Regions from separate parts of the Homo sapiens genome. Here all the other regions are linked to region 2. The links come from fine-mapping of genetic effects on gene expression. A gene starts in region 2. Each other region holds a variant in brackets. All regions are shown on one strand. Distances are between the middles of the regions. Region 1 overlaps COL4A3 (collagen type IV alpha 3 chain). Region 2 holds the start of COL4A4 (collagen type IV alpha 4 chain). Region 3 overlaps COL4A3 (collagen type IV alpha 3 chain).

The links.
Region 1: its variant is fine-mapped to the expression of COL4A4 in thyroid (GTEx, PIP above 0.99).
Region 3: its variant is fine-mapped to the expression of COL4A4 in skeletal muscle (FUSION, PIP 0.95).

The regions. Positions count from the first base shown.
Region 1 is chr2:227,226,604-227,229,367 of GRCh38, reverse strand. The region is part of intron 1 of COL4A3 (collagen type IV alpha 3 chain); the gene reads right to left. MFF-DT (MFF divergent transcript) reads left to right here. Exons shown (of 14, transcript NR_102371.1): 11 at 736-887; 12 at 1,476-1,598. Among named protein-coding and RNA genes, the nearest start is that of COL4A3, 63 kb to the right of the region's middle. The variant G/T (reference allele first, on the strand shown) is at 1,625.
Region 2 is chr2:227,162,743-227,165,506 of GRCh38, reverse strand. It overlaps COL4A4 (collagen type IV alpha 4 chain), which reads left to right and starts at 1,302. Exons shown (of 48, transcript NM_000092.5): 1 at 1,302-1,500. It overlaps COL4A3 (collagen type IV alpha 3 chain), which reads right to left and starts at 883. Exons shown (of 52, transcript NM_000091.5): 1 at 694-883. The coding sequence starts at 780. RefSeq lists silencers at 650-829, 1,050-1,429 and enhancers at 1,700-1,799, 1,074-1,975.
Region 3 is chr2:227,190,210-227,192,973 of GRCh38, reverse strand. The region is part of intron 1 of COL4A3 (collagen type IV alpha 3 chain); the gene reads right to left. Among named protein-coding and RNA genes, the nearest start is that of COL4A3, 27 kb to the right of the region's middle. RefSeq lists an enhancer at 1,052-2,251. The variant C/T (reference allele first, on the strand shown) is at 1,322.

The DNA.
Region 1 (2,764 bases), 64 kb before region 2:
ATTAACCAAATATCATTTGCCTAAGAGCACAGACACATTACAATGTTTTATTTAACAAAATATTGGTTAGAGACCCCAATGGTACTTGATGCTTATCCAAGAAAGGTGCCAGATCAAATATATTACACAAAGGCAGCAAGCCTTCCAGGAGTGCGGATCAATTGGGTCTCACACTCTTCTCTTGATCTCAATTCTCGCAGTGCCCGTGTGCCACCCATGTCTCACCTGCACATCGCTTTCTCTTATGAGGCAAAGTGGTACAGGGTGAAGGGCACCAGTTCCAGAGACGTACTTCCTGGGTCTAAATCCCAGCTCTGCCACCTCACCTCTGTGAGTCTAGGCAGTCTCAGGTGTCTCGGTTTCCACATCTGTGAAATGGGGTCAGATTGGTTAGCACAGGTAAGCCCTTAGAAGAGTTCATAGGATACACTGAGGGCTGTTACTGTAGGCTGTTACTAACTCATTGACTTGACATGGATCATTAGGTGCTCCTGAGTTGAGGGTTTATCACTTTCCCTAAACTGCAGGTGGGAACGGTGTCTCACAATTCCTTATATCCCCCTAGCACTGTAAACAATTATCTTTTTATCCTTAAAACTCATGAAGGATCTCATTAAACACATCCATTTTTATTGTTCGTTAAAAGGATCAGGAAATATGCACATGCATTTTTATTAATAGACCAGAACATAATTTCCAAATAATCTTGACTATTTCTCTCTCTACTGTCAACAGCCAGCATGCTCGTTCCTGTGCATGCTGGTGAAACAGACGTGGCCTGCCCTGCCTTTCTCCAATCTCTCTCCCGCAGCCCAGCCCAGCCCAGCCTGGTTTAATAGCAGGGGGAGTTGGCACCGTTCACAGCTGGTTAACACCCTACTGAGCAGGTCTGTTGATTTTGCATTATGATTACTGACCCTGCCAGTCCCTCTGCCCAGCCAATAGCCTGAGGGGAAAGTTTTTGTGTGTGAAAAGAAGAGCTGACCAAGTATAGCCAAACCGTGCCAGACAGACGCCACGAGCTGTCCTCTGCAGGGCCGCCTCTGCCCGTGTCTGCCTTAAGCAACCAACCATGTGCCCTGGCACCATGCCCTCCAGTGAAGAAGAATGACACCCATGGACTGCTTTGCGGGATGCCCCCGCCTGCCCCGCCCTGAAGCTGCTGTCACCACCCTTGGACATCAAAGAAATCTCACTGCAGCTGCCACTTCCTATCCCTCAACTCCCGTCCAGAGACACATCACTAGTCTAGACATGTAAGCCAGCCACCCGTTTTTGATTTTCTGGATGACAGCAAGCATACAGATTACTAACTCTGACAAAGACGGTGCAGTGAGGGCTCTCTGGTACATTTGAGAATAAATAATATGGTAAGAAAATTTTGCCCGTCTTATGCAATGCAGAGAATGGTAAGTATACCTATAATCATTAACTCCAGGTTCCTTTTTTTTTCTTTTCTTTTTACCCCCTAAAAGGTTTTGAATGCAGAAAGACTGAGAAAACTTCACTATTCATGTAAGAAAAATAGGCTCCACGGGATCCCTTGATCAGGATGGTGGTAGAGGAAATGAACTTCCATCAGCACTGTAATGATCTCAGTATGTTTTGAGCACTTTCAGTGCTG[G/T]CTGTCTCATATTATCTCATTATATCTTACAACAATTCTGTAAGGGAGGTACTGTTATAAGCTCCATCTAATAGATGAGAAACCTAGGATTTTGAGAGGCTAAGGATAGTAAGGAACATGGGGAGTGGGGATCTGAATTCAGGTGAGACAGTCTGACCCAGGGTCAGTCATATTCTCAGGTGCAGTGTTGCATTTCTTCTTCTTCTTTTTTTTTTTGAGATGGAGTCTTGCTCTGTCACCCAGACTGGAGTGCAGTGATGCAATATTGGCTGACTGCAACCTCTGCCTCCCAGGTTCAAATGATTCTCCAGTAGAGATGGGGTTTCACCATGTTGGCCAGGCTGGTCTCAAACTCCTGAGCTCAAGTGATCCACCCACCTCGGCCTCCCAAAGTGCTGGGATTACAGGCGTGAGCCAGCGTGCCCGGCCTGTATTTCATTATTGACGGGCTCTGCTGGCCACAAGGCACTGGGGGAGGAGGGGTATGTTTCTCCCCCTCTCACCCTATCACTGTGCCCCTCATGATGGGACGTAAAATCCCAGTGAAAAACATAACATAGTAGCTCATGAAATTAGCTGTATAATGCAGGACTTGGCAGACAGCAGCTTGCAGGACAAATCCAGCCCTCTGCCTGTTTCCATCCGGCCTATGAGCTAAGACTGGTTTTTATATTTTTCATGGTTGAAACAAAATTAAGAGAGAAATAACATTTTGTAATGTGAAAATTATATAAACTTTAAATCTCAATGTCCATAAGTTTGCATTTCATCAATACAAATGTTGTGGATATTTATTTTCTCTCTTGTTATATAGGTATCTGCATAGTAGCCTTCATTTTGCCTCTTGGCTTGCAAAGCCTAAAATATTTACTACGTGGCTCTTTATGGGAAAAGCTTGGTGATTCCTGGTACAAATTATCTTCATTATATTTTTTCTATGGCAATATAAAAATTGCATTAAAAATTAAGATAGAGGCCAGGTGCGGTGGCTCATGCCTATAATCTCAGCACTTTGGGAGGCCGAGGCAGGTAGATCACCTGAGGTCAGGAGTTCAAGGCCAGCCTGGCCAACTGGGGGAAACCCCGTCTCTACTAAAAATACAAAAATTAGTTTGGCATGATGTTGAGTGCCTATAATCC
Region 2 (2,764 bases):
CAAAGAATAAGAAATATGGGATGGATTTAAATAAATCCAGTTTCACTCAAATTCCAAGTCAAAAATCAAATCAAAGTGTCAGATTGCTTAAATGATTCTAACCTGAGTTCGATTTCTAAGGTGCTCTTAATTTTTCAGTGATAGCATTTGCTTTTCCCAACAATAGCAAAGGAAAACTGGAGGGCAAGTTTTGCAAGGAAGAAACTGAGCCCCAGAGAGGTCAGGGTTTAGTGTGACGTCCCAGCTAGGAAGTGGCGGCTGGGACTCCCTGCAGGTGTCTCCTGCCAGCCCTCTGTGCGCTGGGCCAAGCTGCTTGATTTGATTCACCAGCGTGACACCGTGCATCTCCACATCCGGTGTTCTCACGTATCATCCCTGGCGATTATCTATGTGTCTATTTTTTAATTTACTGACCTCTGGAGGCCTGTCCCCGCCATCCCTGACTCCTAGGCACTGGACAAGCCCCCTCCTCGCCTCTTCCCCCAGCCCCGCGCATTCCACCTGTTCCGGGGCATCCCCGCTTGCTCCCTTCCGCTCGCTGCCTGTCCCGGGACCTGCGTGAAGCCCTCAGCCTCGCCACTAGCCCGGCAGCCGCTCCACTACCGCGCCGCTGCGGGTGGGGCCAGCGCGTCCCCCGGACGCGTGGAGGAGGGATGGAAGTGCGGGGGTGGGGGTCGCGCAGCCCCCACTCACCTTGCTGGCTGCGGGCGCCGCCGCCAGGAGCACCAGCAGGAGCGGCAGCAGGAGCACCTGCGGCCTGGGGGCGGTCCGGGCGCTCATGGTGGGCGCGCGCTCAGAGCCTGGGCGAGTCCGGGGACCCTCAGGCTCTCAGGCCACCGCGTCTCCTGCGCAGCGCGGCTCTGGGAGCCCGGCTGGAAAGCTCGCCTCGCCACTCGGCCGGGGCGGGTTTTGTAGGGCTCGGTCGCGCGGTTCGTCCCTCCCCACCCAGGCTTTTTGGTTGTGGCTTCAAGGGAGGGAAGACGTGGCTCAGGTCCCGCCCTCATACCCCCTCCCTCCCAACTTACCAGGCAGTGTCCCTTCTACCCGGGCATCGTGCCCAGGAGGCGAGAAAGGGCTGGGCGCCTGAGGGGCAGGTGGGCGCGGATCCAGGGTAAGGGGTTAAGGAGGTGATGCTCCCAAGGTCCGGGGGCCCAGGCGGGGAAGTGGGGTGCGGTCGGAGGTGGGGCGTTTGGGGGTGTGCGGTGGGGAGGTGGCTGCGCGGTGGGGAGGTGGCTGCGCAGGGTGGAGGGAGTGGCCAGCGGCCCTGCCCAGATTAAGCGGGAGGCGCGCCGGGCGTCTGCACTCGGGAGGCCCCGCTTGTTCCCCGCGCCCGCGGCGGTCCGCGTTCCCCGCCTCCAGCCCGCCTCCAACTTGCGGCCGCCGGGCTTGGCTGCGAGAGCGCCGCGAAGAGGCAGCGGGGCGCGGGTGGATTGGGGCTGGAGGTGCGCGTCCCGTGGGGTGGCAAGGCGGCAGCTCCTGGCGCTGCGGGCGTCCCCACAGGTAAGGCGCCCATAGGTGGGGCAACCGCTGTCCCGGGGCCCCGGCACCTGCCTGGGAGGGGCAGTGGAGGGAGCGTGGCATTCAAGGGGTGGTGGCGGGCCCAGCTGGGGAGTTGTGGCCCGGGGGTCACCAGAGGAGAGCGCGTCTGGCTCCTGGGCTTGTCTGCCTGGGCTTTAACTGGGTGCTGTGTGTTTTGATTAATTTGGAGGCTCGAGTTACCGGCCTGGCAGTCGGGGCACTCCAAAATGCCAAGAGAAAGAGGCAGCTGAGGAGAAAGAGAAAGCCCATCTTATTCTCCGCTGAGTTGAACTGCTTTTCAGGCCAAATCTTATCTGCGGAAATGCAGGGCAAAACAAGACTCAGCTCTGGTCAGGGTGCGCTCTTCCTGGGGGTGGCCTGCGATGCAAATGTGCCAGGGCACGGTCCTCCAGCCGGCTCTCGCCGTTTCCTGTGCTACGGACCACACTGGCTCTGGTAAAGCAATTAGACTGTTTCTCAGAAGAATGTTGTGAAATGCATAAAATACAATTAAATCAGAATCAGTTTTATTGGAATGCAATTATGGAAGTCCTCAAGTCGTGATATAGTAACTAACACAGGTGCATCATCATTATTGCATTAAATAGCTTGATTTAACAGCAGGCCGATTAAGCAACAGTAATGTCAAAGTAGTGATGTCTGCAAATGGTATTTTGAGATAATAGCCCAAACTGAAATGTGACATGAAAATACCGGTGGGTGCAAATTATCAAGAACTGCCAATACTACTGTGCTCTGTTGCCTGTGCTCATAAGGGAAGGACATGTTGAACTTCTGTGACATGTTACTAAAAGTAAAGATGCAACTTATTTTCCTATGTGAGTTTCCTATACAGATCACCTGAATTCCATCCTCAGGTTAAGAATCTTTGCTTTGGAACAGTGTTGCTGATATTTGCTGCAATTGGCTTCAGACACCAAGTATGATCATGCAGTTGGTCACTGATTTTAGGGAACCACTTGCTTGCAGTTAAATTTGGGATCTATTGGTATCTTAGAACTTTGTAGCCATGCAGGTAGGCAAAACCCTAACAGTGAATGAAGACACTCCTCCCATTCTTTTTATTTTGACTATAGCATGAATCTTACAGTCTTCTTTCTGTCTTTTATGCCAGTGATTCTCAACTATCGTTGTGCATTAGAATCTTTGGGAGGATAAAACAATGTTGCTACCCAGACCATTCCAAGCCAATTTTATCAGACTCTCTAGCTGTTTTAAAATTTCC
Region 3 (2,764 bases), 27 kb before region 2:
GTGATTTTATGCTGATTAAAATATTTGGGCTTATATTTTATATCTTTTAATTTCATTTTCTTTTAATTTTTTATTCTTATATTTTAAGAAAGTATTGGCTCACAATATAATGGAAATGTAAAAACAAAACAAAATTTTCTTCACTATAGAAAGTTTGAGAAACACTGTTCCAAACTCTTATTTGGGTTGACTCGATTCGTCAAGGATTGTTCATTCATGATTCACACTCACTCCCCAGGGGACAATGAAACCTCTCTCCCTGCCCTCCAGGACACCCCTAACCTTCTCCCCACCCTTCACTACAACAACTACCACAAACACACACTGAGCAAAGTCCCAAGGGACACTTGCAGAGATTGAGGACTTGGGGCACATGAGACCGTCAAGTGATCTCCATACAACCACCATTGTGGTGGGGTTTGAAGACTTTCAAAGCCCCAATACCAAGGGTGGGACAGGGGTTCACATTTATGTATACAGCATCATTTGATTCCACAATTAGCTGAGATGAAAAGAGGGTAGAGATGAAAAGGTTGGTTTTCATCCTGCCCTGGTCAGGGTCTGAGGAAAATGAAATGAGCAAGTCAAATATGATAGTGTGTGCTAAACCACATCTAACATTTCAAAGCATTATGTGCACATGAAGAAATTAAATATTTAATAAAATGGTAGGGGAGAAAGACAACAACCAGACACAAACTTAGCCTTCTTCACAATTCTATAACTAGGTTTAGACAAGCTGTTCAAGACAAAATTGATAGTCAGAACCTGGAGTAATAATTGTTTGGGATTAATTTACCATCTGTTTTTCAATGACGTTTTGCAACTGGATGGTATAATTACCGTTTATACTCTGTGTCAAAAGCAAAGAGAGATAAAAATGAATACTTGAGCACAGAGAGATAAAAATGAATGCTTGAATTTAGAGCAAATTCTTCCTTTTTAAAGATTTGCTTTAGAGATGAAGAAATTCACTGTACACATTCACAGAGAAATTTAAGGAAATATGACTTTCCTTCGATAATTTTTTTCCCTTTCCACAATTCTCAAGTGTCTGTTTTTGATAAGGGCACTGCTGTTGAAGAAATTGCCAAATTTATTCCAAGGTCTTTGTGTTTTGTAAGAGAATCTGTAATATTCTAAGTTCTTCTTATTATTAGCGTTCCAGAAACTAATTATGAAAAAAATCTTTATTTTTAGCCTTCATAATTACAAAAATAAGAAAATGATTTTCATTTAAGGTAACCTGAGATATGCCCAGTAGTTGTAAACACAGTTGTCTTTTATTAGAATAAAGTTTCTTGCAGGCCATAATGTAAAA[C/T]TTCAGCTACATCTGTCTCCAAGATGAGTTATTTGGCCGACTTTGAAATCTGATCATCCTGATTTGCTGAGTCACTGTAATCTCCCATTGCAGCCCCTTGGCAGGTTCTTTGAATCCTTGATGCGGGGAATGGCCAACAGGGGAGCTCCACAAATGCACCGTGGATGGAGCCATTCAACATTTGTATGTGGCTGGTAAAGAGTGATTTTGTGAACTGCTTTTCAAAACACTTCTTAGCTTTCTTTATTGTTCTTCCTGCCCCCTCACCCACTTAAATTTTTTGTTTTTGCCTAAAGTCTGAATTCAGAAAATAGGTCTTTTGTATATGCCAACAGTCTTAAACTTTTGCGTCCTTTACAAAAAAAAAATCCATTTCTGGGAATGTGTACGAGGAATGTACTTCCAAATCAAGCAGAGTGTCATTGGCATGATCATAGCAGTATTACTTATAATAATAAAAATTTTGTTATTCCCCAAGTATCCAAAAAGAGCAAAGTGGTTGAGAAAATTTAAATGTCAAAAATTGTTTCCATGGCCATATACGTATTATTTATGTAGTCTATTTTTAAGAGAAAAAAGACATAAAATTTCATATATAATAACCTTTGCATCTATTTTTTAAAAAATTCTATACATAATAGAAGTGCTAGAAGAAGATGCTAAAAACATTAATGATATTGTCCTTAAGTAGTAAACTATGATTTGCTTTTTTCCTTTTAACTTTTCAGAATTTTGCACATTTTCATTAGTTATGACATATTACTGTTACCCAGTCTGGAGTGCAGTGGCATGGTCTTGGCTCACTGAAACCTTCACCTCTTGGTGTCAAGCGATCCTCCCACATCAGCCTTCTGAGTAGCTGGGACTACAGGTGTGTGCCACCAGGCCTGACTAATTTTTTAATTTTTTGTAGAGACGAGGTTTCGCCATGTTGGCCAGGCTGCTCTCAAACTCCTGAGCTCAAGCAATCTGCCTGCCTTGGCCTCCCCAAAGTGCTGGGATTAGAGCCACGATGCCCAGACTACCTATTACTTTTATAATAGAAAATAATTAATACACTTTGTTTTAATTAGTGATACATTTCAACCTCAAAGAATACACAAAGTCCCTCTTCTGTTACATATTTTGATCCGAAATAATAAACTGATATGTATATATTCCTAGATGACATATAAAACATATCTATTTATGTGTTTGCTTCAGACTGTAGAAGTGTTTCCATTTTAGTTCCTCAGGAATGGGTACAGACTGTTGTGAGAAGCATCATGCATGTCCATATTTTAAAAGGGAGTCAGGATCTGCAAGAAATGGAATTCAAGGCATGTTTGCAGAGCCAGCAGAGGAAATATAGTATCATGGAGCAGGCACGCCAAGATGGCAGTAAGGGAGAAGCATCACTCTCTTGAGTTACCTCCAGCTCTTGAGGGACCTGCATGTGCCTTG